2 separate regions of the Homo sapiens genome follow, and region 2 is linked to region 1. Evidence: fine-mapped expression QTL. A gene starts in region 1. The other region holds a variant in brackets. All regions are shown on one strand. Distances are from middle to middle. Region 1 holds the start of STAU2 (staufen double-stranded RNA binding protein 2). Region 2 overlaps STAU2 (staufen double-stranded RNA binding protein 2).

Region 1 (15,946 bases):
GCACCACTGCACTCCAGCCTGGGTGACAGAGCAAGACTCTGTCTCAAAAAAAAAAAAAAAAAAAAAAAAAAGGAAAAAAGAAATGGTATGTGGTGTGTGTGTGTGTGTGTGTGTGTTTGTGTGTGTGTGTGTGTGTTGGAGAGCAGTCAACAGGATGCAGAAAGCAACAATTCCAGGAACTTTGATGACGGGGCAGACAAGTAGATTGGCTACACACAGTGGCAGTGATACAGAGAGACTAGAGACAATATCTGAACACACCAGCAGGCTGCACTGCCACTGGCAGGCATGTTTGTTCAATGAGAAAATGAATGAAGGGCTCAGGCCTGCAGATGATGCTGGGGTAGGGCTGGGAGAGGAAGGAACAAACCCTGCTCTGGGTACTGAGCACTCTGACACTAGTAGCCTGGCCCGACCTTGTCAGACAGCCTTCCGTTGGTCCCTCCCTAGGCCATTTCCCCACTGAGATCATGGCCCACTTCCAGCTACAGCATGTCCCAGAAACAGGCCATGACTAAATGTTACATATTGCATGTTACTGCCTGGGAGTTTCCTCCAGCTTCCAACTTACTCCTTCATCTCGGCTGCTACCGCAACTACTGACTGTTTTAACTTGCCTAAAGCATCCCCCTTGACCTGGGAAGGAGAATAGACTAGAAAAGACTAGTAAGGCCTGTTCCACTTCAATCTGGTGTTTGTAATCTCTGCAGTGCAGGTGTGCCTATCTGTCTTCAGCACAAGAAAGGTGTTAAATGAATTAAGCCAGCTGAGATGATTCATGCAGAAAAGCGTAGGTACCAATGGAAGGAAATTTTCTATGTCACCTTTATATTAACATAGGAGCAATATGGTGAAAAGACAAGGTGATATGTTTCAGAGAATGTGTGGAGGTATTTTTTGTTTTTTTTGTTTTTGTTTTTTGTTTTTGTTTTTCAGACACAGTTTCACTCTGTCACCCAGGCTGGCATGCTGTGGCATGATCTCCGTGCACTGCAACCTCTGCCTCCCGGATTCAAGCGATTCTTCTGCCTCAGCCTCCTGAGTAGCTGGGATTACAGGCGTCTGCTACCACGGCCAGCTAATTTTTGTGTTATTAGTAGAGATGGGGTTTCACCATGTGGGCCAGGCTGGTCACGAACTCCTGACCTCAAATGATCCGCCTGCCTTGGCCTCCCAAGGTGCTGGGATTACAGGAAAATGTGTGGAGTTTTAAATGTGATTCTAAGATCCTCTGACGTGCCTTCCACGGAAAGAAAGGATCAGGTGCCCTCCCCTTGAATCTGGACTGTGTGATTTGACCAGTAGAATATGGGCAGAATTCAAAGCATATTTGAATTCTGGGCCACGCTTTAAGAAAGTAGTGACTTTTACTTCTGGTTTCTTGGAACCCAGCCACCATGCTGTGAGGGGGCCAAACTCAGGGTTTGTTCCTTCCTCTCTCAGCCCTACCCCAGCAACATCTGCAGGTACATAGAAAAGCCACATGTGGGTGTTCTGGTTGACAGCCCCAGCTGCGGTCCCAGTGGAAAACCATCATCAACTATAGATGAGTGAGTCCTTACATGATTTGGGCTCCCAGCCTTTGAGGTGCCCTTAGCTGATACTGCATGGGGCAGAGACAGGATACTGAGCCCTGCCTGAACTAAATAAATTGTTGCTTGAAGCTGCTACATTTTGGGGTGCCATATTACACTGCAATATGTCTCAAATTCAGAATGCTATTGACAATTAGCCAAGAAAAGAAAGAATGAGAAGCAACAATTCCAGGAACTTGGGATGAAGGGACAGATAAATATTAATAGATTGGCCACACACAATGGCAGTGATACAGAGAGACTACAGAAAATTGTTCAGATATTGTCTGTAGTTTCTCTGTATCACTGCATTGTGTGTGGCCAATCTACTTGTCTGCCCCTTTATCCTCAGTTCCTGGAATTCTGGAATTGTTCCTCTTCAATACAGGTATACATAGCTGAAATTTTTAGTTTTTTTCCTCCTTTATAATTGGCAAGAGAAAAACAATGTTTTATGAAGTTTATAATGAAGTCTTTTGGAAAAGTTATTGGAAAGGAAAGATGAAGTGATTGCTAAGATGATGTCTGTCAAAACAGTCACAATTAAGAAGTGTTTAAAGAAGTCATTGTACTTGTTTAAAAAGCAATACTTGCCATCTTTCCCTTCTCCCCTAGCCCCCTCCTCCTTCTCTTGTGTGCAGAGATGTCACAAATTTATTTCCACTGCAAGGACATTCAAATAATAACTAACAAGTTACACTTCTAGGTTTTGTTACATATATAATATATTTGTATAGTTCAAAGAAAAGTATTCGATATTTAAGGTAAACAGGGTGGAATAAAACCAGGTTCTAGAACCTTTCCCACTCCTAAAAACTAATGAAATAAAATCTTATTTTCTCCAGAAGCCCATTAGACTGGGCAAAGCTAAGCTAATAGAGGATCTGGGTACAGTTTCCCAGATTAAATATGAACAAAATAAGAATAAATTATGTTAAAATTATGCCATTATTCGGGCGGATTACAAGGTCAGGAGATCGAGACCTTCCTGGCTAACACTGTGAAACTAAAAATACAAAAAAATTAGCCGGGCGTGGTGGCAGGTGCCTGTAGTCCCAGCTACTAGGGAGGCTGAGGCAGGAGAATGGCGTGAACCTGGGAGGCGGAGCTTGCAGTGAGCCGAGATGGCGCCACTGCACTCCAGCCTGGGTGACACAGCAAGACTCCATCTCAAAATAAAAATAAAAATAAAAAAATTATGCCACTATTATAGCTAAATAAACAAATAAATGGAACACTGTATTCAAAAGATAAAGGAAGAACTCAAGTTAGAAGAAAAATACCTCATGGAACAGAAGACTATTTCTATGAAGGCTTTGCACTACAGAAAAATGTAACATATTTTTCTGATGGGTTTTCTAATGGATGCCATTTTACTCATCCTGAGTCTTGGGAGTATAATAGCTTCCTCCATCTCCACAACTCCTAGATGGAGCAGCCACCCCGCTATTGATGCTCCCCTTGTGTCTGAACCTATTTCCCAGCTCCACCAATTCTACAGTAGTGTAATCCCACATCGTGGTGTGCTGCAGTCTTTCAGGTGGGGGCAATTCTTGGGGGCTCCCCACTGTGGCTGCAATTGGTTCACTTTTATCTTGTTGGTGACCACTGGATGCACAGAGAGGATGGGAACCTCTATGGGCTTGTCCCAGTCCTCACTCTCCTCCCCACTAGAGCTCTCCATGGGGTCCCAGGATGACTTAGTCATGAAAGCCCTGACTCATTGACGTGGCAGCTGACGTCTCTTCAAACGGGCTACCTGACAAGGACATGCCAAGGTTTGTAGAATCTGTATATTCTGTTAAAAAACCTTCAACTTACAGATGATAAAACACAGATTGAGTTGAAAGGGCAGACTGTAAAGCTATCTTGTCTTGTATTTTAATTAAGAATGAAATCAAGACTTAAATGATGCCATTACAAATTTAAGGAAAAAATTAGAATCAAAATACTAGATAGACTGGCTGACAACCAAATTTCTGGCATGGTGGAAAATGCGAATATCCCCAAGAAAAAAAAATTCAGAGACAAGATGATAGTTATAGAGAAAAAAGAAAAGTCATTACAAGCATAATTGGGTCCCTATTATTTACTTATTTATTTTTTTGAGATAGGGCCTTACTCTGAGGCTGGAGCGCAGTGGCATGATCATGACTCACTGCAGCCTTCAACTCCTGGGCTCAAGAGACCCTCCCACCTCAGCCCGAGTAGCTGGAACTACAGGTGTGCACCATCATGCTCGGCAAATTTTTCTTTTTATTCTTTGTATATATTTTTAATTTAATTTTATTCTTTAGAGACAGAGTCTCGCTCTATCACCCAGGCTGGAGTGCAGTGGTACCATCACAGTTCACTGCAGCCTTGACATCCCAGGCTCAAGTGATCCTCCCACCTCAGCCTCCTGAGTAGCTGGGACTGCAGGTGCATGCCACCATGCCCAGATAATTAAAAACTTTTTGTTTTTTGTAGAGACAGGGTCTCATTATGTTGACCAGGCTGGTTTTGAACTCCTGGCCTCAAGTGATCCCCCTACCTTGGCCTCCCAAAGTGCTGGGATTACGGATATGAGCCACCACACCCAGTTCCTATTATTTGTATTCAAAAAAAATTATTTAACACCATGTGCCATAAGACTTAAAAGAGGACAGGCACTGTGGCTCACACTTTGGGAGGTCAAGACAGGAGGACCACTTGAGCTTGGGATTTCAAGACTAGCCTGGGCAACTTAGTGAGACCTCGTCTCTACTAAAAATTAAAAAAATTAGCCAGGCATGGTGGCACGTGCCTGTAGTCCCAGCTACTTGGGAGGTTGGGGAGGGAGGATCACCTGAGCCTAGGAGGTCAATACTGCAGTGAGCCATGATTGTGCCACTGGACTCCAGTCTGGGCAACAGAGCAAGACCCTGTCTCAGGGGGATAAAAAAAAAGACTTAAAAAAGAATCTTTCCATACTTCATTAAGTATATTTTTGTTTCCTTATTTTTTTTCTTATTAGTTGAGAGTTTTCTTTTTTAATTGATACATGGTATCTGTACATGTATATGGAGTACATGTAATATTTCGATACATACATACAATGTATAGTGATCAATCATGGTAATTGGGATATCCATTACCTCAGACATTTATCATTTCTTTGTATTGAGAACATTTCAGATCTTCTCTGCTAGCTATTTTAAAATGTATAATAAATTATTTTTAACTATAGCCACCCCACTGTGCTATTGAACACTAGAACTTATTCATTCTATCTAACTGTATGTTTGTACCCATTAACCAATCCCTCTTCATTTCCCCCACTCACCCTTCCCAGCCTCTGGTAACCATCATTCTACTCTTTATCTCCATGAGATCAGCTTTTTTAGCTCTCACATATGAGTGAGAACATGTGATATTTGTCTTTCTGTGTCTGGCTTATTTCACTTAGCATAATATCCTTGATTCATATATTTTGTCTTAATGGGTAGGATCTCTTTTTATAAGGCTGAATAATATTCCATTATACCCATTTATTTGTCGGTTCATCCACTGATGAACACTTAGGTTGATTCCATATCTTGGCTATTATGAATAGTGCTGCAATGAACATGGGGGTACAGATATCTCTTCGCTATACTGATTTTCTTTTCTTTGGATAAATATGCAGTAGTGGTTGCTGGGTTGTATGGCAGTTCTATTTTTAGTTGTTTGAGAAACTTCCATACAGTTTTTCATAACGGCTGTACTAATTTACATTCCCACTGTCAGTGTACAAGAGTTTCCTTTTCTCTGCATCTTGGCCAGCATTTATCTTTTGTCTTTTTGATAACAGTCATTCTAACTGGGGTAAGATGATAGCTCATTGTGGTTTTGATTTGCATTTTCCAGATGATTAGTAATTTTGAGCATTTTTTCATATACCTGCTTGTTTCTTATATATAATTGATTACCTTTTTTTTTCTTTTGAGACAGGTTCTCTCTCTGTTGCCCAGGCTAGAGTGCAGTGGTGTGATCATGGCTCACTGCAGCCTTGAGCTCCAGGGCTCAAGTGGTCCTCCCACCTCAGCCTCCCAAGTAGCAGGGACTACAGAAATGCACCACCACACTCGGCTAATTTTTTATTTTTTGTAGAGACAGGATTTGGCCATGTTGTCCAGGCTGGTCTTGAACTCCTGGCCTCAAGCGATCCTCCTGCCTCTGTCTCTCAAAATGCTGGGGTCACAGGCACAAGCCACAGCACCTAGCCCACTTTGTAAAATATATTTCTACTGTTTTTTAGCAGCGTTTTAGGTGGCTAATACCTTAATAATTATTTTGACATTATTATGAAAACAAGTTGAGTTTCAAGCAATACTTTTATTACTGAACACATAAATATATTGGGAATTTTCAAAATGTTTTTTTTTTATTTGAGACGAAGTCTCACTCTGTTGCCCAGGCTGGAGTGCAGTGGAGCTATCTCAGCTCACTGCAAACTCCGCCTCACGGGTTCAAGCGATTCTCTTGCCTCAACCTCCCAAGTAGCTGGGACTACAGGCGTGTGCCACCACGCCTGGCTAATTTTTTTGTATTTTTGGTAGAGACAGGGTTTCACCATGTTGGCCAGGACAGTCTCGATCTCTTGACCTCATGATCTGCCTGCCTCGGCCTCCTAAAGTGCTGGGATTACAGGCGTGAGCCACCGCGCCCGGCCTCAGAATGCTATTCTAATAAAGTACAGTGTTTGGAAGTGCTTATTTCATGCATTTGTTATTCATTCATTCCCCTGTAAGTTCCATGAGGACAAAGATTTTGCAGATTTTTTTCGTTGCTACACATCCCTAGGCCAAGAATAGTACTTGGCCCATAGTGGGTATTCAGTAAATGTTGGTCAAATTTGCTAATCCCTTCATTTGACAAGCATTTAGTGAGCACTGTGCTAAGTCCCAGAGAAACAAAGAAGAGAAAGTCATTGTTGTTGCCTTCAAGGAGCTTAAGATATAGTAGAAGAAACACATAAATAGTGTGTAGTGATAAAAATAAATTCAGGGCCATGCAGTGGCTCATTCCTGTAATGCCAGCACTTTGGGAGGCCGAGGAGGGCAGATAACTTGAGGCCCGGAGTTCAAGACCAGTCTGGGCAACATGGCAAAACAAACTGTCTCTACCAAAAATACAAAAATTAGCCAAGCCTGATGGCACATGCCTGTAATCCCAGCTACTCAGAAGGCTGAGGCATGAGAATCGCTTGCACCCTGCAGGCAGAGGTTGCAGTGAACCAAGATTGTACCACTGTACTCTAACCTGGGCGAGAGCAAGAACTCTGTCTCAAAAAAAGAATTTAAAAAAATTCAGATATCATCAATAAAGGAGGGTAACTTCTATGGTGGGTGCTGGGGGCTAGATGAATTTTACAGGAAAATAAATGTCAAGAAAAGGGCATCATAATATAAGATATAATATAAGAAAGAAGAGGACATAGAAGGAAACTGGAGTTTGTGATTCTGGAATCTGTCCCATTCAAACTGCTCAAATCCGATAATGGTGAATTTGAAAGCATTATCTTTTTCCTGATGCTTGAACATTTCACTGCAATGGTGACTGGTAAAAATGTGTTGATAAAACAGACGCTTTTTAAAAAAAAATTTAATTTTAAATTTATTTTTAATTAAATGGAGGTGGGGTCTCACTTTACTGCCCACGCTGGTTTCAAACCCCTGGTTTCAAGAGATCCTCCCTCTTTGGCTTTTCAAAGTGCTGGGATTACAGGCATGAGCCACTGCGCCTGGCCTCATTTGCTTTAATCAGCTGCCTATTAATAGGCCCACTGTTCTTTATTTATTTATATTTTTTGATACAGGGTCTTTCTTTGTGGCCCTGGCTGGAGTGCAGTAGTGTGATCTCAGCTCACTCCAACCTCTGCCTCCCAGGCTCAAGTGATCCTCCCACCTCAGCCTCCTGAGTAGCTGGGACTACAAGCACGCACCACCACGCCCAGGTAGTTTTTCTAATTTTAGTAGAGATGGGGTTTTTGCCATTTTGCCCAGGCTGGTCTCGAACTCCTGACTTCAGGTGATACGCTAGCCTCCCAAAGTGCTGGGATTATAGACGTGAGCCACCACAGCCGGCTGGCCCACCGCTCTTTAAATATTCATTATTTTCAACTCCTATACAAATATTTTATTTTAAAGTAAATCCTAAAATGATTGTAGAGTGATGTGTGGATTTCCATGTCACTCAGGTGATTTCATGTACTGATACTATATACCTTGAGCAACTGAAAGTGCTGATTCAATTAAAAAACAATTTCCTTTCTGATAATTGTGACTTAGAAAAATTCATTCTATTTGGGGTTTACCAATGACTGAAAATCAGTTATGAGGAACAGTTACGGGAGGGATAAAGTTTTCAATTAACTTTAAGGATCTGAATCAAAGAGAATGAAATCTGACCACCCCAGAGTTCTTTCCAAAAGTATAAACTCATCCATTTATACCAAAGGATTTACCGTCCACCTACTTGCTGTTGGATGCTGGGACTACAGATATGCATGAGACACAGAGCCTGCCCTTCAACAATGCAATGTTTGGTAGATACAGACAGGCTAAAAAAAAAAATTCTAACATACCTACAATATCAGAGAAGAGAGGTACAAGAGAAGAGCACTCGCCTGCTCAGAGGAGTGTTAGAGAATGCCTCTCAAGGAGGTGATTTTTTTTCTTTTTTTTCTTGAGATGGAGTCTTGCTCTGCTGCCCAGGCTAGAGTGCAGTGGCTCGAACTCAGCTCACTGCAACCTCTGCCTCCCGAGTTCAAGCAATTCTCCTGCCTCAGCCTCCCAAGTAGCTGGGATTACAGGTGTGTGCCACCACGCCCAGCTAATTTTTGTATTTTTAGTAGAGATGGAGTTTCACCATGTTGGCCAGGCTGGTCTCAAACTCGTGACCTCGTGGTCTGCCCGCTTCGGCCTCCCGAAGTGCTGAGGTTACAGGTGTGAGCCACCACACCCGGCCAAGAAGGTGATTTTTGAATGCCGTGAAAGATTATTTGTTCACCAGGCGAGAGAAGGGTAGCCTGAAGGGAGAGAGAATAGCCTATGGAAAGACACAGAGGTAGGCAGCTTGACCCTTGGTATGGCTGGTGGGAAAGTAAGGTATTCATTCAAAATATTCAACAATTTCTGGTCAACTTCTTTCAGTCAATGATGGACAGGTGGACTGCATATACAACGGTGGTCCCATAAGATTATACAGTTCTTTAAGCCGGGCGCCTGCAATCCCAGCACTTTGGGAGGCCGAGGTGGTGGGGAGGGGCGGGGGGGGGGGGGGCCGGCGGGGAATCACTTGAGGTCAAGAGTTCGAGACCAGCGTGGCCAACATGGTCAAACCCCGTCTCTACTAAAAATACAAAAATTAGCTGGACGTGGTGGCATGTGCCTGTAATCCCAGCTACCAGGGAGGCTGAGGCAGGAAAATTGCTTGAACTCGGGAGGTGGAGGTTGCAGTGAGCTGAGATTGTGCTACTGCATTTCAGCCTGGGTGACAGAGCGAGACTTCGTCTCAAAAAAAAAAAAGATTATATAGTTCTTTTACTGTAGGTTTTCTGTTTAGGTACAAATACCCTTGTGTTGCAAAATTGCCTACAGTATTAGTACAGTAACACACTGTACAGGTTTGCAGCCTAGGCGCAATAGCTATATACCATATAGCCAAAGCAAGTAGTTGGCTAGACTACCTAGGTTTGCGTAAGAACACGCTATGATGTGCGCAAAACAACAAAAATCGCTTAATGACACGTTCCTCAGAACATATCCTTGTGGCTAGGTAAGGCATGACTGTATTAGAATGCTGACTGGGTGCGTAAGCCGCTAGAAGGAGCACAGCAAATTTAGGGAGGATGCAACATGTTAAATCCGAGGGAACTGGCAGAGGTGAAAAGGGGGGAAAGGAGCATAGGAAAGAGTTCTGGGAGGAAAAATATAGCTGTAGCTAACATTGTACCAGGAGAGGTACTACATACCCGGTCCTATTTAAAGGGCTTCATATGTATTGTCACATTTAAATACGAACTATCTATCACATGTAGTCTCCTCTTGATGCACAGGATAAGTAACATGCCCGTGGTCTCCTCACCAGTTAGCAAGCGGATATCCAGCCTTGGTTATCTGACTCTGGCGCCCTTGCGGTTAACCAGGACACACACTACCTTCCCAGGTGCAGACATGAGATTGGTTTTAGATGATGACTGAAATCACCGGCCTGGGAGACATTTCTCAGTCAGAGAAGTGACACTGGGAAGAAACCCTAGAAATAACGTTGCAAACGAGTAAGTTTGTGAAAACACACTAATAGTTCTATTTCGAAATTTCTTTGTCAGATTATTTTTGGTGCCGGTTACTAAACGAAGTGTTCAGTTTCATTGAGCTTAACTGGGTTGAAGTTATCTAGACAAAAGTAATCCACATCAAAACCAGGACGAATTAAGACGTAATTTCTGTTTTCTGGCACTCTTGCCTCATAAATCTAGGATTCAGGGCATTGTTTTCAATGGTTCTCATTTTTGGCTCCAAGGATTCTTTTTCATGTGACTAATATTTTCGGTAGAAGAGGAGGTCTGGCCACGCCGCGGGTCTTGGCGAGCAGGTGATCACGGATCCCTGGTGTTTGCTGGGCGAGACGGTGAAGCAACCTCCTCCCCGCCCCCTCCCCCGTCTAGAAAGGTGCAAGATCCGCTAAACCGTGCGTTGCACAGCGGCGGCCGGAGCAGACGCGGGATGGTCGCGCGTCCCCTGCACAGCACAGAGGGGCAGCCGGAGAGCCTGGGAAAGGTACGAGCGGGGAATCAGAGCACAGGGTGCGGACCAGAAAGAGCAGACGGTCAGTCGGGCGGGGAAGGAAGTTGCCGAGTTGCAGGTGTGGAAGGGGCTGCCCCAGGCCCACCCTTGGCAGACGAGGGGGCGGGGAGTCGCGCCGGGGACGAGGAGACTGCGGACCGGGCGCGCTCCTTGCGCAGTCGCTCGCCCGCGTGCCCAAGCCCCCCGGGAATGGCCCTCGCCCAGGGGCCCAGCTCGCCGCCGCTAGCCCCGCAGAGCCTGCAGCTGCTGGGGCCCGGCAGCCGCCAGGGGGCGGGAGCTGCGTCGCGAACAATGGCCGCGCTTGGTCGCGGGCCGGCGGGAGGCGGAGTGGAGGTAGAGCCGGTGCCGGGCGCGCGCGCCGGCCGGGCGTGCTGGGGCGCGGGAGCGGCTGCGCAGGCGGGGGCGCGCGGCGCGAGCGCGGGAGGGCGCGGCGGGAGCGCCGGGGAGGCGGGCGGAGGCGGGCGGAGGCGGGGGGCGGGGAGCCCGAGGGGTGGAAGCCGGCGGCGGCCGAGCGGGGTCAGTTCTCTGTAGTGTTTGCCAATGTTGGAGCCGTCTGCAAAGTGTCCCCGGCAAGAAGGTAAATACCCTCATCGGGGGCGTCCGGGAGACCCCGACTTCCGCGCCGCCGGCGAAGAAGGCAGAGGGCGCTGGGGAGCCCTGCAGTTCCGCAGCACGGGGAACCCGGAGAAAAGCAGCCCCCTTCGCGGCCTCCCCTCCCCCGCGCCTTCCCTCCCACATCGGGCTCTCGGGGCAGCAGCGGGGAGGGGAGACCGGCGGGGGAGGGAGGACAGGGAGGCGAAGGAATTGGGGTGGGGGGTGCGTGTGTGGTGGAGGGGGTGGGACGACACAGGTGTCCTGAGGGGAGGAGCCGGGAGGAAGGCGAGGAGGCCGGGCCAAGTGGGGGTGCGGAGGTCGGGGAGACAGGAACGCGGCTGCGGGCGCGGGAGGCTGGGGTTCTAGGGGGCCGGGGTGGTAGCGGCCGGAAGAGAGGACGGCGAGTGCAGCCACGGTGTGGCTGCGAGGGAGAGGGAGCGCCTAGAGTAGGGCAGGGGAGGGCGGCCCGGGGAGGGTCTGCGGGAAATGGGCCTGGGGGCGCTGGAGGCGGAGCGGCGGGGCCGGGGCGCGCCGGAGGGTGGCGGCGGCAGCTATTTCTGTAGAATGGGCTAGTGGTAAAGACGTAACTTGCCGAAATGGGGAGGGTAGGTGGGGCCGAGGGGACAAAATATATCCTATGACAGGCAAGTTCTGCTGTGGCTGTTACGAACTCCTACCGTGATGGCTCGGCTTAAAGGGGTAGTTGGCGGTAGTGACCTTGCCGGGGTGAAGGGAGTTGGGCGAGGAGACAAAGCTCAGTTACGGAATCCGCTGTGTGAGAGCAGGAACTCTAGTCTCTTCGGGGTCGAGCCGGGGGCTGTGGCTTGGGGGCTGGGGGTGCTCCGCAGAGGCCATTGAGAAGCACGCCACTCTGGGATTCTTAGGGAGGCGGTGGGGGTAATGGCCGTGGGATTCTGGAAGTCTTTGGAAATGTGTGTAGAATTTTGCATTTGTGAATAATTTTCTTTGGTAAGGGTCCATATTTGCTGTGATGTCCCCTTACCCCCATCCCCACTCCAAAGGGTTAAGAACTGCTTGAGCAGATAGAGAGGGACCATTCAATTAGGGTAGACCTGGGAATTTACCAAAGGATTTTAAAGTGGGTGGATCCTGCAGAAAGAAAGGCTAGAGATGATCCTTTAAAGATATTTTACTGTTAATTGAAAACGTTTTTTATTTAATGTTTGCTTTCACAATTTTGGTGAACTTTTGCTGAGCATTACTTGGCTTCTGATGCATCCTGTGTTTCAGACCAGCATCGTGAATACTTGAAATCAAAATTGTGATGGACAGGCAGGGTGATAGTAACCTTGGAGGAGAAAAGATTTCAACATTTCTCCAGGATATTTCTTCCCCGTCCTTGCTTTCTTTAGATGATTCAAGTACACTGTTGTGAACTCAGCTGCGGTGGAAAAATCTTATTTAATAAAACTACCAAAACCAAGACTTACTCTCCATCTCTGTTTTGTAGTATGGCCAGATTTTCATTGTTCAGTTTGTATCTTACTGCAAACAAGAGATATCACATAACACTTTAATTGTAGATTGCTGCATTTTGCAGCAGGCCTGTATTAAATTTGCGAAGCAGTTATGCCAAACTATCTGGTGTGTTTGTGTTTTCCTGCTATGGTTTCAAGTCAAGTCACTATTGCCATATTTTATTATATGGTAGGCTAGTCTGAAATTTATTCCTAAGTGATGATAAGTTGGTAGGATATGGTACATACTTGCTCACAAATTACTGCATTTTTCCCCATAAAAACCAGTGTTTTGTATTTGTAAGAATGTTGCTGTGTAATCCAAGTATGTATTGTTAATTTCAAATAAAATGCTGTGTAATTTTTAAATTTTAACTTTATTTGGAAATAATTTCAAGCTTACAGACAAATGGCAAGAATAAGAATAATACAAAGAAAATCTTTGTAACCTTTATTCAGATTCACCTGTTAACATTTTATGTATTTATTATTTGCTCTCTATCACACACAAAATATTTTTCCCCTGGACCATTTAAGGGTAAGTTACATACATTGTGATCCTTAACTCCTAAATACTTGAGCTTGGAAAACCATGCAAATTTTACATTTTAGCTTACTTGGCTTGTCTGGAATGAAGTGCTAGGAAGAGTGGCTTGGTTTGCTTTTCAACAAATAGTATGAATATAAAAAAAATCTAAGATAGTCATCAAGCTTTTAAATATACAAACAATCCAGAAATCGAGGCAGAGCGGTTTTCCTGTTTAGGTTCTAGAAGATATGGTAGGTTTTTTTTTTTTTTTCCTTTGTGCCTACCCTTCTCTTTATTCCTATTATTATCTTGTTTTGTGCACGTTCAGTGCTGGGAATCTGATCATTTATAGGTACAGATCATAATAAAGAGGGAAAACTCTAGATACTGCAAAATTGAATTCTCTTAGACTGCATAGTTTGAGACACGCACAGTATGATTATTCACATATAGATATATTTGTGCCTCTTATAGGTACACAAAATACTAGATGTCTAGAATCAGTAATAATTATCATTTTTATTTATGTGTGCATCGTTTGATTTTAAATAATCCTCCCCAAGTTCTATATAGGAGCTTTGCCATTATGTTGTCCTAGAGGTCAAGCCCTTGACTTTGTTCCAGGAAAAATTATAAGAAGGCAAATCTTTTATTTTTCACCAAGCTGATCATAGAAAATAAAAAAAATTGGCCAGGTGGGGTGGCTCATGCCTGTAATCCCAGCACTTTGGGAGGCCGAGGCAGGTGGATCAGGAGGTCAGGAGTTCGAGACCAGCCTGGCCAACATGGTGAAACCCCGTCTCTACTAAAAATACAAAAATTAGCTGGGTGTGGTGGTGCGCGCCTGTAATCCCAGCTACTCGGGAGGCTGAGGCAGGAGAATCGCTTGAACCCGGGAGGCAGAGGTTGCAGTGAGCTGAGATGGCGCCATTGCACTCCAGCCTGGGTGACAGAGTGAGACTCAGTCTCAAAAAAAAAAAAAAATGTCCGGGCATGGTGGCTCATGCTTGTAATCCCAGCACTTTGGGAGGCCGAGGTGGGTGAATCACCTGAGGGTTGGGGGTTCGAGACCAGCCTGACGAACATGGAGAAACCCCGTCTCTACTAAAAATGTAAAATTAGCCGGCCGTGGTGGCGCATGCCTGTAATCGCAGCTACTCAGGAGGCTGAGGCAGGAGAATCATTTGAAACCAGGAGGCGGATCTTGCGGTGAGCCGACATGGTGCCCATTGCACTCCAGCCTGGGCAGCAAGAGTGGAACTCCGTCTCAAAAAAAAAAAAAAAAAAAAAAATTAAAAAGAAGGCAAGTCTTTTTTAATTTGGTGTATAGTGAAGAAAAGACGACTTTGGGCCAGAATGAACCGTTCTAAACCTAGCAATGTGACTGTAGGCAAATAACCCAACCTCTAGAAAAATGGAGATAATGCCTACATCCCAAGATGATGAGGATTAAATGAGTTGATGTAAAAATGGCAAAATGTGGCACCTAGCGTATACAATTGGTGTCTGAAAAATGTTAGTTTCCTTTTTTTTTTTTCTGGCCTGTGTTATTTAGAGTTTTCCACTAGAATAGTTTGTGGCGTAAGACTTCTGTTTTCCTTACATAAAAGCAGTGTTTTTGGGTACCCACTTTGAAAAATCAAAATGAAAAACATTTTAAAAAGCTCTTTAAAGGACCGTATATCTTTTTTAGAGTAATAAGCATTGAATTGATAGTTTTGTAGCAGTTTGTAGTCTAAGAGTAGAGATAGTAAATTTTTTTTGCTTTTCATGTTGTCAAATAAGACATTTAAGTGAGAATTGCCTATCAACTGTAGGATGGGTGCTGATATAAAAAATTTATACATATTTAGTAACAGTGCCGTTTTATAAAGCAGTTTAATTATTGGGGATTATATAGATTTCTGTGCAGCTTTTAATTTCTCAGATGGGCAAAATGTAATTCATAATTAAAGTACGACTTATATCAGCAGTACATTGCAGTTACAGGTTGGGCCATTCTTCATGAGCATCACGTCTTCCCCAGCCGTCTCCCTATAATCCTGCTTGTTTTCATTTAGTAGTTTGGAATCTAGAATTGCCTGTCTTCATATGCCTGACCAGATAGGGCATTTTTGGGACGCATGGATACATTTCTCTAAAAGCGCTTAGTTGTAATTGGAATCAACTGTAGCTGGAAACTTTTGTGATAGAGGAGGTGGATTTTTTTTTTAATTATTTTTATTTTTTGAGATGGAGTCTTACTCTGTCACCCAGGCTAGAGTGCAGTGGCGCAATCTCCACTCACTGCAGCCTCCGCCTCCTGGGTTCAAGCGATTCACCTGCCTCAGCCTCCTGAGTACCTGGACTACAGGTGCGTGCCTCCATGCCTGGCTAATTTTTGTATTTTTAGTAGAGACGATTTTGCCGTGTTCGCCAGGCTAGTCTCGAACTCCTGACCTCAGGTGATCCGTCCGCCTCAGACTCCAAAAGTGCTGGGATTACAGGCGTGAGCCACCACACCCAGCTGAGGAGGTGGATTTTATGAAACCAAAGGTAGTATAAAACTGCTCTGCATTTTATTGATATGTCTTGATATTTTAGCAAATTGTTTAAAATATGTGACAGTAGACTGGGCGTGTCTTTAAAGTAGAAACAGAGTCTTAAAGACGTGCCACTGTGAACATTCTGAATTGTCCATGGTATAATTACAAACTACAATTTTTAAATTGATGTAAATCTAAAATAACTGGTTTGCTTAAAAAAGTATAATTTTCAGAATGTTAGCCAATTACAGAGTGCTGTTATAGACATTAGTTTCATGTGTTTTAATTTCTACAGCTCTTTATATTGTAAAGAAAAGGCTTACAGAATATTTAAATCGTATGGTTAATTTTATGTTCATAAAGTTTTATTTTTTGTTACTTCATGGAATATCTTTTCCGTGTCAGAAGACTAGAAGTTTCGGGCCGGGCGTGGTGG
Region 2 (15,946 bases), 180 kb after region 1:
TAAGTTGGGTATAATAAATAATACCTTTCCGACTCTGAAATTAAAAACATTTCTTTATTTTTATTTTATTTTATTTATTTATTTATTTTATTATACTTTAAGTTCTAGGGTACATGTGCACAATGTGCAGGTTTGTTACATATGTATACATGTGCCATGTTGGTGTGCTGTACCCATTAACTCGTCATTTACATTAGGTATATCTCCTAATGCTATCCCTCCCTCAGCCCCCTACCCCATGACAGGCCCCAGTGTGTGATGTTCCTCACCCTGTGTCCAAGTATTCTCATTGTTCAGTTCCCACCTATGAGTGAGAACATGCAGTGTTTGGTTTTCTGTCCTTGCGATAGTTTGCTCAGAATGATGGTTTCCAGCTTTATCCATGTCCCTACAAAGGACATGAAGTCATCCTTTTTTTATGACTGCATAGTATTCCATGGTGTATATGTGCCACATTTTCTTAATCCAGTCTATCATTGATGGACTTTTGGGTTGGTTCCAAGTCTTTGCTATTGTGAATAGTGCTGCAATAAGCATACATGTGCATGTGTCTTTATAGCAGCATGATTTATAATCCTTTGGGTATATACCCAGTAATGGGATGGCTGGGTCAAATGGTATTTCTAGTTCTAGACTCTTGACGAGTGGCCACACTGTCTTGCACAATGGTTGAACTAGTTTACAGTCCCACCTACAGTGTAAAAGTGTTCCTGTTTCTCCACATCCTCTCCAGCACCTGTTGTTTCCTGACTTTTTAATTATCGCCATTCTAACTGGTATGAGATGGTATCTCATTGTGGTTTTGATTTGCATTTCTCTGATGGCCAGTGATGATGAGCATTTTTTCATGTGTCTTTTGGCTGCATAAATGTCTTCTTTTGAGAAGTGTCTGTTCATATTCTTTGCCCACTTTTTGATGGGGTTGCTTGATTTTTTTCTTGTAAATTTGTTTAAGTTCTTTGTAGATTCTGGATATCAGCCCTTTGTCAGATGGGTAGATTGCAAAAATTTTCTCCTATTCTGTAGGTTGCCTGTTCACTCTGATGGTAGTTTCTTTTGCTGTGCAGAAGCTCTTTAGTTTAATTAGATCCCATTTGTCAATTTTGGCTTTTGTTGCCATTGTTTTTGGTGTTTTAGTCATGAACTCCTTGCCCATGCCTATGTCCTGAATGGTATTGCCTAGGTTTTCTTTTAGGGTTTTTGTGGTTTTAGGTCTAACATTTCAGTGTTTAATCCATCTTGAATTAATTTTTTTGTATAAGGTGTAAGGAAGGGATCCAGTTTCAGCTTTCTACATATGGCTAGCCAGTTTTCCCAGCACCATTTGTTGAATAGGGAATCCTCTCCCCATTTCTGTTTTTGGCAGGTTTGTCAAAGATCAGATGGTTATAAATGTGTGGTATTATTTCTGAGGGCTCTGTTCTGTTCCATTGGTCTATATCTCTGTTTTGGTACCAGTACGCTGCTGTTTTGGTTACTGTAGCTCGGTAGTATAGTTTGAAGTCAGGTAGCATGATGCCTCCAGCTTTGTTCTTTTGGCTTAGGATTGACTTGGCAATGCAGGCTCTTTTTTGGTTCCATATGAACTTTAACGTAGGTTTTTCCAATTCTGTGAAGAAAGTCATTGGTAGCTTGATGGGAATGGCATTGAATCTATAAATTACCTTGGGCAGTATGCCCATTTTCACGATATTGATTCTTCCTATCCATGAGCATGGAATGTCCTTCCATTTGTTTGTGTCCTCTTTTATGTTGTTGAGCACTGGTTTGTAGTTCTCCTTGAAGAGGTCCTTCACATCCCTTATAAGTTGGATTCCTAGGTATTGTATTCTCTTTGAAGCAATTGTGAATGGGAGTTCACTCATGATTTGGCTCTCTGTTTGTCTGTTACTGGTGTATAGGAATGCTTGTGATTTTTGCACATTGATTTTGTATCCTGAGACATTGCTGAAGTTGCTTATCAGCTTAAGGGGATTTTGGGCTGAGACAATGAGGTTTTCTAAATATACAATCATGTCATCTGCAAACAGGGACAATTTGACTTCCTCTTTTCCTAATGAAATACCCTTTCTTTCTTTCTCTCTCCTGCCTGATTGCCATGGCCAGGACTTCCAACACTATGTTGAATAGGAGTGGTGAGAGAGGGCATCCCTGTCTTGAGCCAGTTTTCAAAGGGAATGCTTCCAGTTTTTGCCCATTCAGTATGATATTGGCTGTGGGTTTGTCATAAATAGCTCTTATTATTTTGAGATACATCCCATCAATACCTAGTTTTTTCAGAGTTTTTAGCATGAAGGGCTGTTGAATTTTGTCAAAGGCCTTTTCTGCATCTATTGAGATAATCGTGGTTTTCGTCTTTGGTTCTCTTTATATGCTGGATTACATTTATTGATTTGCATTTGTTGAACCAGCCTTGCATCCCAGGGATGAAGCCAACTTGATCGTGGTGGATAAGCTTTTTGATGTGTTGCTGGATTCGGTTTGCCAGTATTTTATTGAGGATTTTTGCATCAATGTTCAGTAGGGATACTGGTCTAAAATTCTCTTTTTTTGTTGTATCTCTGCCAGGCTTTGGTATCAGGATGATGTTGGCCTCAAAAAATGAGTTAGGGAGGATTCCCTCTTTTTCCATTGATTGGAATAGTTTCAGAAGGAATGGTATCAGCTTCTCTTTGTACCTCTGGTAGAATTCAGCTGTGAATCCATCTGGTCCTGGAATTTTTTTGATTGGTAGCTGTTAATTATTGCCTCAATTTCAGAGCCTGTTATTGGTCTATTCAGGGATTCAAGTTCTTCCTGGTTTAGTCTTAGGAGGGTGTATGTGTCCAGAAATCTATCCATTTCTTCTAGATTTTCTAGTTTATTTGCGTAGAGGTGTTTATAGTATTCTCTGATGGTAGTTTGTATTTCTGTGGGATGGGTGGTGATATCCCCTTTATCATTTTTTATTGCGTCTATTTGATTCTTCTGTCTTTTCATCTTTATTAGTCTTGCTAGCGGTCTATCAATTTTGTTGATCTTTTCAAAAAACCGCTTCCTGGATTCATTGATTTTTTTTGAAGGGTTTTTTGTGTCTCTATCTCCCTTAGTTCTGCTCTGATCTTAGTTATTTCTTGCCTTCTGCTAGCTTTTGAATGTGTTTGCTCTTGCTTCTCTAGTTCTTTTAATTGTGATGTTAGGGTGTCAATTTTAGATCTTTCCTGCTTTCTCTTGTGGGCATTTAGTGCTATAAATTTCCCTCTATACACTGCTTTAAATATGTCCCAGAGATTCTGGTATGTTGTGTCTTTGTTCTCATTGGTTTCAAAGAACATCTTTATTTCTGCCTTCATTTCGTTATGTACCCAGTAGTCATTCAGCAGCAGGTTGTTCAGTTTCCATGTAGTTGTGTGGTTTTGAGTGAGTTTCTTAATCCTGAGTTCTAGTTTGATTGCACTGTGGTCTGAGAGACAGTTTGTTATAATTTCTGTTCTTTTACATTTGCTGAGGAGTGCTTTACTTCCAACTCTGTGATCAATTTTGGAATAAGTGCGATGTGGTGCTGAGAAGAATGTATATTCTGTTGATTTGGGGTGGAGAGTTCTGTAGATGTCTATTAGGTCCACTTGGTGCAGAGCTGAATTCAATTCCTGGATTTCCGTGTTAACTTTCTGTCTCGTTGATCTGTCTAATGTTGACAGTGGGGTGTTTAAAGTCTCCCATTATTATTGTGTGGGAGTCTAAGTCTCTTTGTAGGTCTCTAAGGTCTTGCTTTATGAATCTGGGTGCTCCTGTATTGGGTGCATATATATTTAGGATAGTTAGCTCTTCTTGTTGAATTGATCCCTTTACCATTATGTAATGGCCTTCTTTGTCTCTTTTGATCTTTGTTGGTTTAAAGTCTGTTTTGTCAGAGACTAGGATTGCAACCCCTGCTTTTTTTTGTTTCCCATTTGCTTGGTAGATCTTCCTCCATCCCTTTATTTTGAGCCTATGTGTGTCTCTGCATGTGAGATGGGTCTCCTGAATACAGCACACTGATGGGTCTTGACTCTTTATCCAAACTGCCAGTCTGTCTTTTAATTGGAGCATTTAGCCCATTTACTAAAATCTCTCAGCATTTGCTTGTCTGTAAAGGATTTTATTTCTCCTTCACTTATGAAGCTTAGTTTGGCTAGATATGAAATTCTGGGTTGAAAATTCTTTTCTTTAAGAATGGTGAATATTGGCCCCCACTCTCTTCTGGCTTGTAGAGTTTCTGCCGAGAGATCCGCTGTTAGTCTGATGGGCTTCCCTTTATGGGTAACATGACCTTTCTCTCTGGCTGCCCTTAAAATTTTTTCCTTCATTTCAGCTTTGGTGAATCTGACAATTACGTGTCTTGGGGTTGCTCTTCTTGAGGAGCATCTTTGTGGCGTTCTCTGTATTTCCTGAATTTGAATGTTGGCCTGCCTTGCTAGGTTGGGGAAGTTCTCTGGGATAATATACTGCAGAGTGTTTTCCAACTTGGTTCCGTTCTTCCCGTCACTTTCAGGTACACCAGTCAGACGTAGATTTGGTCTATTCACATAGTCTGCTATTTCTTGGAGGCTTTCTAGATTGGGGAAGTTCTCCTGGATAATATCCTGCAGAGTGTTTTCCAACTTGGTTCCATTCCCCCCGTCACTTTCAGGTACACCAATCAGACGTAGATTTGGTCTTTTCACATAGTCCCATATTTCTTGGAGGCTTTGTTCATTTCTTTTTACTCTTTTTTTCTCTAAACTTCTCGCTTTATTTCATTAGTTTAATCTTTAATCACTGATACCCTTACTTCCACTTGATCAAATCAGTACTGAAGCTTGTGCATGCGTCACGTAGTTCTTGTGCCATGGTTTTCAGCTCCATCAGGTCATTTAAAGTCTTCTCTACACTGTTTATTCTAGTTAGCCGTTTGTCGAATCTTTTTTCAAGGTTTTTAGCTCCTTTGCAATGGGTTTGAACATCCTCCTTTAGCTTGGAGAAGTTTGTTGTTACCAATCATCTGAAGCCTTCTTCTCTCAACTTGTAGAAGTCGTTCTCCATCCAGCTTTTTTCCGTTGCTGGCGAGGAGCTGTATTCCTTTGGAGGAGAAGAGGCATTCTGATTTTTAGAATTTTCAGCTTTCCTGCTCTGGTTTCTCCCCATCTTTGTGGTTTTATCTACCTTTGGTCTTTGATGATGGTGACGTACAGATGGGGTTTTGGTGTGGATGTCCTTTCTGTTTGTTAGTTTTCCTTCCAACAGTCAGGACCCTTAGCTGCAGGTCTGTTGGAGTTTGCTGGAGGTCCACTCCAGATCCTGTTTGCCTGGGTATCACCAGTGGAGGCTGCAGAACAGCAAATATTGCAGAATGACAAATATTGCTGCCTGATCGTTCCTGTGGAAGCGTCGTCTCAGAGGGGCACCCAGCTGTATGAGGTGTCAGTCAGCCCCTACTGGAAGGTGTCTCCCAGTTAGGCTTCTCGGGGGTCAGGGACCCACTTGAGGTGGCAGTCTGTCTGTTCTCAGATCTCAGACTCCATGCTGGGAGAACCACTACTCTCTTCAAAGCTGTCAGACAGGGACGTTTAAGTCTGCAGAAGTTTCTGCTGACTTTTGTTCAGCTATGCCCTGCCCCCGGAGGTGGAGTCTACAGAGGCGGGCAGGCCTCCTTGAGCTGTGGTGGGCTCCACCCAGTTCGAGCTTCCCGGCTGCTTTGTTTACCTACTCAAGCCTCAGCAATGGCGGACGGCCCTCCCCCAGCCTCACTGCCACTTTGCAGTCTGATCTCAGACTGCTGTGCTAGCAGTGAGCGAGGCTCTGTAGGCATGGGACCCTCTGAGCCAGGCGCAGGATATAATCTCTTGGTGTGCCGTTTGCTAAGACCGTTGGAAAAGCGCAGTATTAGGGTGGCGGTGTCCTGATTTTCCAGGTACCATCTGTCACAGCTTCCCTTGTCTAGGAAAGGGAATTCCCCGACCCCTTGCGCTTCCCAGGTGAGATGATGCCCCACCCTGCTCCGTGTGCTGCACCCACTGTCCGACAAGCCCCAGTGAGATGAACCTGGTACCTCAGTTGGAATGCAGAAATCACCCGTCTTCTGCATCGCTCACACTGGGAGCTGCAGCATGGAGCTGTTCCTATCTGGCCATCTTGGAACCTCCAATCAAAACATTTCTTTTAAGTTATCTTCTGGAACTCTTATAGTTTCATTTTTTGAAATCTTGAAGTCTTGATCCATCTGTTACTTATACTGAAAGTATGGACCCAACTTTATTCCCCACTGCATTGAGAGTTCACTGTTACCATATACTAAGATTATGAATTTGGTATTATTCCAGACTTTCTGTTCTCCTCTGTTCATCTAACTATCTATGTGCCAGTTTTAATCGTTGTCTTTTTTTTTTTGAGATAGGGTCTCACTCTGTTAGCAAAATTCTGTCAGTTGTGCAGTGGCATGATCATAGCTCATTGCAGACTTGAACTCCTGGGCTCAAGGGATCCTCTTGCCTCAGCCTTTCAAGTAGCTAATTTTACAGGCACGTGGCACCACACCCAGCTTTGCCCCCACTCCCCCGACTAGAGACAAGGTCTTGTGGAGTTGCCCAGGCTTGTCTCAAACTCCTGGCCTGAAGTCATCCTGCCTTGGCTTCCCAAAGTGTTAGGATTATAGGCATGAGCCACTGCACCCAGCTTAATCATTGAGTCTTTCTTGTGTTTTAACATGAGTCAGTTTAAAGTAATGTGTGTTTTAAACAAATGTGAATAAAGATGTACTTGGTCTGTAATCTTCTTGCACGTACTACATGGAGTACAAGTAATTGAAAAGACAAAAATCTCCTTCCTTGGCAACAGAAATAAGAGATGTGAGAGTAGTCAAAGCATCAATTATGAAGCACTAAAATAAGCAACAGGGAACTAACTGTATGGTTGAAAACTATTAAGGTTCAGGAAGGCAGTGCAGATAGTTTCCCTAAAACTTCTTTGTATAATGTTAATGCATCATTCATTCTTTCATTTTTTTAGAAAGTATTTGTTTATTATAATGTACCCTTTTTGGTATTATTGATGATTTCAGTAGTTTTTAAAGATGAAATTGCTTATTGAAAGACGAGTCCATATTTAAGATAAACACCACCATCCTGCCCAACTCCCCCCTCCCCCCCAGCGAGTAAGAAAAGGTGGGATGCCTGTAATCCCAGCACTTCAGGGGCTGAGGTGGGTAGATCACTTGAGGTCAGGAGTTTGAGACCAGCCTGGCCAACACGGTGAAACTCCATCTCTGCTAAAAATACAAAAATTTGCCAGGCATGGTGTGGCACATGCCTATAATTCCAATTACTCAGGAGGCCAAGGTGGGAGAATTGCTTGAACCTGGGAGGTGGAGGTTGCAGTGAGCACAGATTGTGCCACTGCAGCCTGGACCACAGAATGAGTGAGACTTCATCTTAAAAAAAAAAAAGAGAGAGAGACAAATATTATTTGAAAAAAAAATCAATTTTTTTAATCGTTTTTTAATCGTTTTCTTGTTGCCCAGGCTGGAGTGCAGTGGTGTAATCTTGGCTCACTGCCACCTCCACCTCACGGATTCAAGTGATTCTTCTGCCTCAGCCTCCTGAGTAGCTGGGATTACAGGCATATGCCACCACACCTGGCTAATTTTGTATTTTTAGTAGAGATGGAGTTTCTCCATGTTGGTCAGGCTAGTCTCAAACTCCCAACCTGAGGTGATCTGCCCGCCTCGGCCTCCCAAGGTGCTGGGATTACAAGCGTGAACCACTGCGCCCGGCCTTTTTTTTAATCTTAAAAAGTAAATCACATAGCACAGTGTCTGGCATTGTTGGTGCTCAGTATTTGAGCAAATGCAAGAATTGCATTTTCACTTTTTTCCCCACTGTATTAATGATCTTTTGAGTAGTTTATAACATATAACAATTAGAATTCTAGGAATTTAGGTGTGATCCAGACCTGAGATTCTCAGCGTGGTATTGTTGGATTCAATATAATAATGGTTGGCATAATTAGTATTTCAGCAACCTAATGGAAGTAATACAGTTACTCTTAGTAGATTGCTTTGCTTTGGATTAGAATTTTATTTGAATTCAGACCTCAAGATGTTCTGAATCTCAGGTTGGCAGTCTTTGAAAGATGATTTATTATTACTTAATAAATGCAGTCTGTCTGAAAGACAGATCCTTTAAGCATGGTATACATAGAAGAAAAACAACATAAGGAGGCTTAAGTGTGAAAAGGTTGGAGAATGTCCAACCTCACATGTTTTACATACAGGAAAATTGAGGCTCAGTTGATTTTATAACGGGTCTAAAGACACTCTTAGTTAAAGGTAGTGAAGACTTGAACTCATGTCTTCTGACTCCAGGGTCTCTGCAGTTGCCACTAGACAGCACCTTTATTTCTAGATATATCATTTGCTGATAATTAAAGGAAAAAAAGAGAATAGTGTTTTTAAGAAATTCCATTAAAATTAAGTACGCATTTTTTTGAAAGAATGTTTTATATATCATGTACCAGAATCTTTTTTTATAAAACATTTAAGATGTTTTATTACATGGAAAATGTTCAAACTATTGTTTCAGATACCAGATTGATATTTGGGTGGATCATGTAAAAACACTAAATGGCTGAGAAACTATGTGAAATGTTTGTTTTAACTATTATTACATCAGTGACACAGCCATCTACATTACTTGATTTTTCTTAAGATTTAAAAAAACTTTAGTAATAGTCAAATTTAAAAAACACTCAACAGGCTTTTTGGGTGATGTTATTCAAGTGTGTTCTTTTATTCCAAGCTTTCTGGTTTGTGTTAAGATGATTCATAGATTATTAGGGCTGAAAGAAATGAAAAGTTCCTTAAGACTAATTCATCTTACAGATGAAGAAAGCATGATAAGGAGAATATCTGCTGCCTCAACTCAAACCCAGATAGCTGGGCTCCAGTCTGGTGCATTTACCAATGTACTATTGTTGTTTTTACTTTATTACATTTTGTGTTAATACAGAACATTAGACTTCTTTTTTTTGCTTTACCACTAAAAAAATTAAATCCAGTAAGTTCTTACTTAACATCATTGATAGGTTCTTGGAAACTACTACTTTAAGTGAAATGACATATAACGAAATCAGTTTTATCATAGGCTGATTGATATAAACAAGAGTTAAGTTCTCACAACATATTTGTGGTTAGAGAAATATCACCAGACTTCTCAATAAAGACCCAAATTGTAATATTAAACATTGAAATAAATATGAGCTTACATGTACAATTAAGAAAGTTTAATAAAAACAAGATAATTGTTTACTCAATGTGGGGTGAATAAGTGAGTGATAGCAGTCATGGTGGTGGTGGGTTAAATCAAAGTATAAATGTTTGCAAAGTGAAAATTGTAAGCAGTACTTCCTACCACCACACAATTAAAAAACAAACAATAACAAATATGGTGGGCTCACTGAACACTTTTATACTGCATTGTTTATTGTTGTGCATTTGTGTAATGTATTAGTCTGTTTTTGCAGGGCTGTAAAGAGATACCTGAGACTGAGTAATTTATAAAGAAAAGA[G/A]GTTTAATTGGATAATAGTTCTGCAGGCTGTTCAGGATTTTGCTTCTGGGAAGGCCTCAGGAAGCTTACAGTCATGGCAGATGGCAAAGGGGAAGCAAGCACATCTTCACATGGCCAGCAGGAGAGAGAGAGCAAGCAGGGGAGGTGCTACACACTTTCAAACAGGCAAATCTTGTGAACACTCTATCAGGAGAACAGCAAGGGGGAAGTCTGCCCCCATGATTCAATCACCTCCCACCAGGCCCCTCCTCCAACACTGGGACTCCAATTCCACATGAGATTTGGGTGCAGACTCAGAGCCAAACCATATTATATGATTATTGTGCATTTTACAGATTTTAATTTTACATTCATTTGTATACATTCAGTCATTCATTTTCTAACCCACTTATTCCAGTTCAGGATTGAGGTTGGTCAGAGCCTATCCTAGCAGCTTAGGGAGCAAAGGCAAGAACCAACTCTGGACAGGATGTCATTCCATTCCAGGACACATGTGCACACGCGTGTGCGCACACACACACACACGACACCCATACTGGGACAACTTAGACCTGCCAGTGAACCTAATATGCATATCTTTTAAATGTGGGATGAAACTGGAGGACCTGGAGAAAACCAGTGCAGATATGGGCAGAACATGAGAACTCCACATAAGACAGTGGCCCAGGTGGGATTTGATTTTTTTTCTCATCAATATTATAACAAAATGATGTTGAACAAAACAACATTATTTGAGGACCCACTGAGTATATTTTCTTTTTTTTTTAACTTTCATTTTTTAAGTTCAGGGGTACACATGCAGGTTTGTTATGTAGGTAAACTGTGTCATGGGGGCTTGTCATACAGATTATTTCATCATCCAGATATGAAGCCTAGTACCTGTTAGTTATTTTTCCTGATCCTCTACCTCCTTCCACCTTCCACCCTCCACCCTCCACCCTTCACCCTTCGATAGGCTCCAGTGTGTGTTATTCCCCTCTATGTGTTCATGTGGTCTCATAATGTAGCTCCTACTTGTAAGTGAGAACATGCAGTATTTAATATCTGTTCCTGTGTTAGTTTGCTAAGGAAAATGGCCTCCAGCTCCATCCATGTCCCTGCAAAGGACATGATCTCATTCTTTTTTATGGCTGCATAGTATTCCATGCTGTATGTGTACCACATTTTCAACAAATGGTGCCGGGAAAACTAAATATCCCAGGTATCCAAAATATGCTGGCTCTGTCGGCACTCCAAGTGAAGCAAGACAAAAATTAGTCCCTTGGGAAGCCCTCTGAAAACGTAAAATGTTGGATGCACATTCCACTCACCTTTACCCCAAGGGAGAAGTTGTGATCTGGAATGCTCTCTCCCGGCACTAAGCTATGTGGCACTAAGCTATGCTGACTTAGGGGGGTGGTGTGGGTAAAGTGAAATTGTTCTTACATGTTTCAGTGTGGCCATTCTTGGCTTTGTGCTCATCTGGGATACTGCAACTTCTTAACTGGATTCTGGAATTCTCAAAAAGGTATTTTGGTCTGTATATCATTGTTAAATCAATGTATGAGTTAGGAATAAGGGCTGGGACTTCCTGTTCTACCATCTTGCTGGTGTCACCCAAGACTTCTTTTTTATTAAACTTTTTATTTTGATGGCCAGGCATGGTAGCTCATGCATGTAATCCCAATGCTTTGGGAGGTTGAAGTGGGAGGCCAGGAGCTTAAGACCAGCCTGGGCAACATAGCAAGATCCTGTCTCTACAATAAATTTTAAAATAATTAATAAAAATTTTATTTTGAGAAAATTGTAGATGCACATGCAGTTGTAAGAATTAATACAAAGAGATCCTATGGACCCTTTGCCTTGTTTATCTCTGGTAACACCTTGCAGAACTATAGTACAATATCACAACTAAGGTATTAATATAAATATGATACAGAACAGTTCTGTCACCATGAGAGTTCCTCATGTTGTGCTGTTATAGCCATACCCTTTCCCCTACCCCCAGCCCTGGATTGAGTGGAAATTCTGGTCCCCATATGGTCTCCACTGACACCATAGTGAGGTGACCTTGTTCCCACTAGTTCTGATTCTCCTTTATTCTCTCCTGACACCACTCCAGCACGGAGGTGGGGGGCATCCTATTACTGCTAGGTGGGGGTAGAAGTTTAGTGTCCCTACATGATCTCCACTGACACCACGGGGCTAGGATGAAAGTCCAAGCTGCCTACTCAGTTTTTTCTGACACTACCACATCAGGGAAGTTGGGGAGAGTTGTTACAGCTTTGCAAGGGTGAAAGTCCCTCTCTGCCTTTGATACATAGATAAAAGTGGGAGAACAGGTTTTTTTGTGTGTATTTGGCTGGACTAAGGTGTGTTTTGTCTAAATTTTATTTCTTGCTAGGCTGCTTCTTTCCTGGTTCTAAAAAGTGAATTTGTTATTTTTACAAGAAAATTTAAAAATTGGATAAGTACTTTATATATATATATTATTTTAAAAATACAGTTTTTGAGATGAGGTTTTGCTGTGTTGCCCAGGCTGGTCTTAAACTCCTGAGCTCAAGCAGCCCTTTTGCCTTAGCCTTCCAAAGTGCTGATTATAGGTGTGAGCCACTGCACCCAGCCCAGTACTTAATATTTATACAGTTCCAGTTAGTTGTTTTTATTAATAATATTGTGGATTCTTCCATAAGTTTCTGAATAATATATAATAGACTGAATAATAGACTAATGTGTAGTAAATTGTTAAATCATAATTAGATCATATAAGGAGAATTGTAAGAAAGTGTTTTGTGGGTTAAGTTCTTTCATCCTAAGGCTGTGCTTAAGTTTTTCTTTGTGTGAACCTAATATTTGAATTTATTTTCTTCCCACAAACAAAATTGTGAAAATAGCCAAGTGCATTATTTTTACATTTTTCCCAATGGGTGGTTTTACAGTGAGAAAAATCTCAGTCTCTCTCTCTCTCTATCTTTTTTAAAGAGACAGTGTGTCCAGGCTGGAGTGCAGAGTTGCCATTATAGCTCACTGCAGCCTTGAACTCCTCTGCTCAAGGGATCCTCCTACCTCAGCCTCCTGAGTAGCTGGGACTACAGGTGCATGCCACCATGCCCAGCTAAAGTTTTAATTTTTTATGGAGACAGCACCTTGCTGTATAGCCCAGGCTGGTTTTGAACTTGTGGCCTCAAGTGATCCTCCTGCCTTGGCCTCCCAAAGTGTTGGGATCACAGGTGTGAGCCACTGCACTGACCTCCATCTTTTCTTTTACTATGAGAGGGGAGACTGAGGTTCATTGAGCCTAGAAAATAGGTCTGAAATGAAGAAATGAAGTTCAATATCTTGACAGTTTCTTGTCTCTATCATGGTGTTAGAATATTTCAAGAATCTAAATGCCCAGAACTTCTTAAATGTATAGATATAAGAACAGTAGTTCTTGGTTTATTTGTTTTACTACTGAAAGGTAGTTATACTTGCTGACTGTAGCCAGATGCCTGGATACTGCCCCAACACCTGCCACTTACTGGCTGTGACTTTAAGCCAGTCATATCACCTGTGTCTTAGGGCCTTCAAGTGTAAAATGGGAATATTCATAGTCCCTACTTCTTGAGGGTCATTGTGAGGATTACTAAACTAATATATGCAAAGCATTTGGAACAAGCCTGATATCTAGTAAGGACTCTATGAGTTTTAGCCAGAATTATTATTGTTATTGTATTGTACTATTATTGTATTGTGAGCCGTTTGCAGGTATTGACTAGGAAGCAATAGGAATCCTGGCAGAGGAGTATTGTGGTGCAGTGTTTGGAAGCTGCTGCGGTAGACATTTCAGTATGTGTTTCTTCCTGCTGAGAGATCAGGTCACTTTTGTCATATGTCAGACTTATATAATCCATTTTTTGGTGTTTTTCTGTCGTAGGGAAATCATAACTAATGGAGTTTTTCTGAGAAGAATCATAACCAAGAAGAACGATCTTTATTTTACGAGCAACATTTTAACCCCACTTAAATAAACTAAAAATTGAAGATGACTCATTATCCTCACAAGGTGCTCTCAAACATCATTTTCACAGCAACTATTTTGTCTTACTTGGTAGAAATAGTCACAGTTGTGTCTTTATTGAAAAGCTGAGCCTTGAAAAAAATTTCTTCTAAATAAGCCAACTAAGTGAAATCTTCCTTATTATTAAGATGAGTGGTGAATGCGCTTCTGGGGAATTCCTGAACTCCCCAATCACTTCCCTGCACCACACTGACTCTGAGTCATATACAATGTGCACTGCCCTTGTTGTGAAGTCAACCTATTTCAAACTATTTAGGGGCCCTTGGATCACTATTAATAACCCCTGTGCCAGACTGTTCTTTGATTTGCATGACTCACTTTGGGCTCCAGAATCTTCTTGTTAAAGAAAATTTCTGGCAAAAGTATAAGTTACTGCATTTGTGTAAGGTTTAAAAAAAAAAGATGAATGATGAATTTATTCACCATACCCAGGTTTATATTCTTTGTTATTAAATACTTTCCATTTGCCTGTTTTAAAGAAAAAATAGCAGCCAGTCCTGAATTTGAAAACTCACTCGCACTTTTATTTGACTAAGGTACAAGCTTTCCAAAGGCATTTCCCAGTTCATCATAAATTGATCTTTAAAACATTTTTGAAAAACCTTTATTGCTGTTATTTCTGTTCATTATTGGTGTTTTGAGGAATATGTATTATTTACTATTTTGTATTCCTCCTTCTTCCTCTTGGAGGTGTGCTGGATGCTATGTCATGACCTGGGATTCTGCCTTTTTGGGGGCAAGACTGGACTAAGTGCATTTTCCCGTTGGTACTGTGTTCACCAAAAGGCAAACATCTTCCTGAAAAGTTCTTTGTCAGTAATTTTATTCATAAACATTCACCAAATTAAGAACCCTTCACATACATCATTATGTTAAATGTAGCAGGAAAAAAAGGACCAATAAAATGCACAAATTAATAAAATCAGTGCTTCCGTTCAACTCTAAGGGTAAGAGCAAGGTTGATTTTCACCACTGTTCAGGTTATGCTTTTTGAGCACATTAAAATACATCATTTTGGCCAGGCGTGGTGGCTCACGCCTGTAATCCCAGCACTTTGGGAGGCCGAGGTGGGCGGATCACGAGGTCAGGAGATCGAGAACATCCTGGCTGACACGGTGAAACCCCGTCTCTACTAAAAATATAAAAAATTAGCCAGGCATGGTGGTGGGAGCCTGTAGTCCCAGCTACTCGGGAGGCTGAGTCAGGAGAATGGCGTGAACCCGGGAGGCAGAGCTTGCAGTGAGCCGAGATGGCGCCACTGCACTCCAGCCTGGGGGACAGAGCGAGACTCTGTCTCAAAAAAAAAAAAAAAAAAAAAAATCTGTTCAGTAATGACTCTTTTTTTAGTGTGTCTTTTTCGTTTCCAAGGTGATTCTGAAACTGATCTTAAGAAGAAACCTCTAACAAATTATTTACCTATTTTTTTATTTTTTCATTGTTTTGCTGTTAGCTAACATTTTCTCTTTTTAGTTTTCCACAAGAGTTTATATTTTGCATTGTTGATTTTTGATTTCATAAGTAGTATATATTTGGCTTAAAAATTAGGCAGAACTAAGGGTCTGAGGGCCTTATCTGGAAGACCAGATTTGCAGTGAGCTGTGTGTAAAAGAAGAGGTGGAGTCACTTACAAATACTACCTGTTCGATTTGATCCCAACAACAGGGCAGCAGGAAGGGGGATTTCTGTAGCTCACATCAGTCTAGTAGCTAAAGATCATGCCAAGGATGCATTCCACCTGTCCCTGACCTTCAGGGACATGACCATGGTGGTCCAGTAGGCTCCCTTGGGTCACATGTACTCTTAACTAATACGTGGCCTCAGGCTACCCTGGGAGAGAACAAGGTCCCGGCTATGAGGCCCACACTGTCATCAGGATCTCCCTTGCTTTCATGTAGCTAAAAGTCAAGCACCCAGAGCCTGGGGAGCCAGGGCCTGTGCATTAGGCAAAGGCCGTGAGCAAAGTTGTCAAGGAGCAGGCATTGCCAGTGCCAGCCCTGCTTATCCTCAGAGCTATATCTAGGAATGGTGCTGCCACCAGTCCTTCCCACTTTGGTGTCCCCATCACCACCCTGTTCTGGGGTCTCTATGTTGAGGGAGAGGCCCAAAGCAGCATAAAACGGTGCTTTCAAAAAAACTTTTAAAAGTGTAATAATGATAGACTCACAAGAAGTTATAAGAATGGTACAAAGAGGTTGCATGTACCCGTCACTCAGCTTCTTCCAGTGGTGATGTCTTATATAACTATAGTACATTTTCAAAACTAGGAAATTGTCATAATACAATGAACTAGACTACAGACCTTACTTAGAGCCTACCAGTTCTCATATAAATGATTTTTAAAAATCA

The links. PIP is the estimated chance that this variant, and not a neighbour inherited with it, causes the effect. A credible set is the group of variants that fine-mapping cannot tell apart.
Region 2: its variant is the best candidate, but not a certain one, in a credible set for the expression of STAU2 in blood mononuclear cells (TOPMed, PIP 0.51).

The regions. Positions count from the first base shown.
Region 1 is chr8:73,741,798-73,757,743 of GRCh38, reverse strand. STAU2 (staufen double-stranded RNA binding protein 2) reads left to right here and starts at 10,904. Exons shown (of 15, transcript NM_001164380.2): 1 at 10,904-10,961. RefSeq lists silencers at 1,556-1,645, 10,402-10,691, 10,772-10,861, 11,152-11,331, 11,442-11,501.
Region 2 is chr8:73,559,050-73,574,995 of GRCh38, reverse strand. The region is part of intron 12 of STAU2 (staufen double-stranded RNA binding protein 2); the gene reads left to right. Among named protein-coding and RNA genes, the nearest start is that of STAU2-AS1, 150 kb to the right of the region's middle. The variant G/A (reference allele first, on the strand shown) is at 9,562.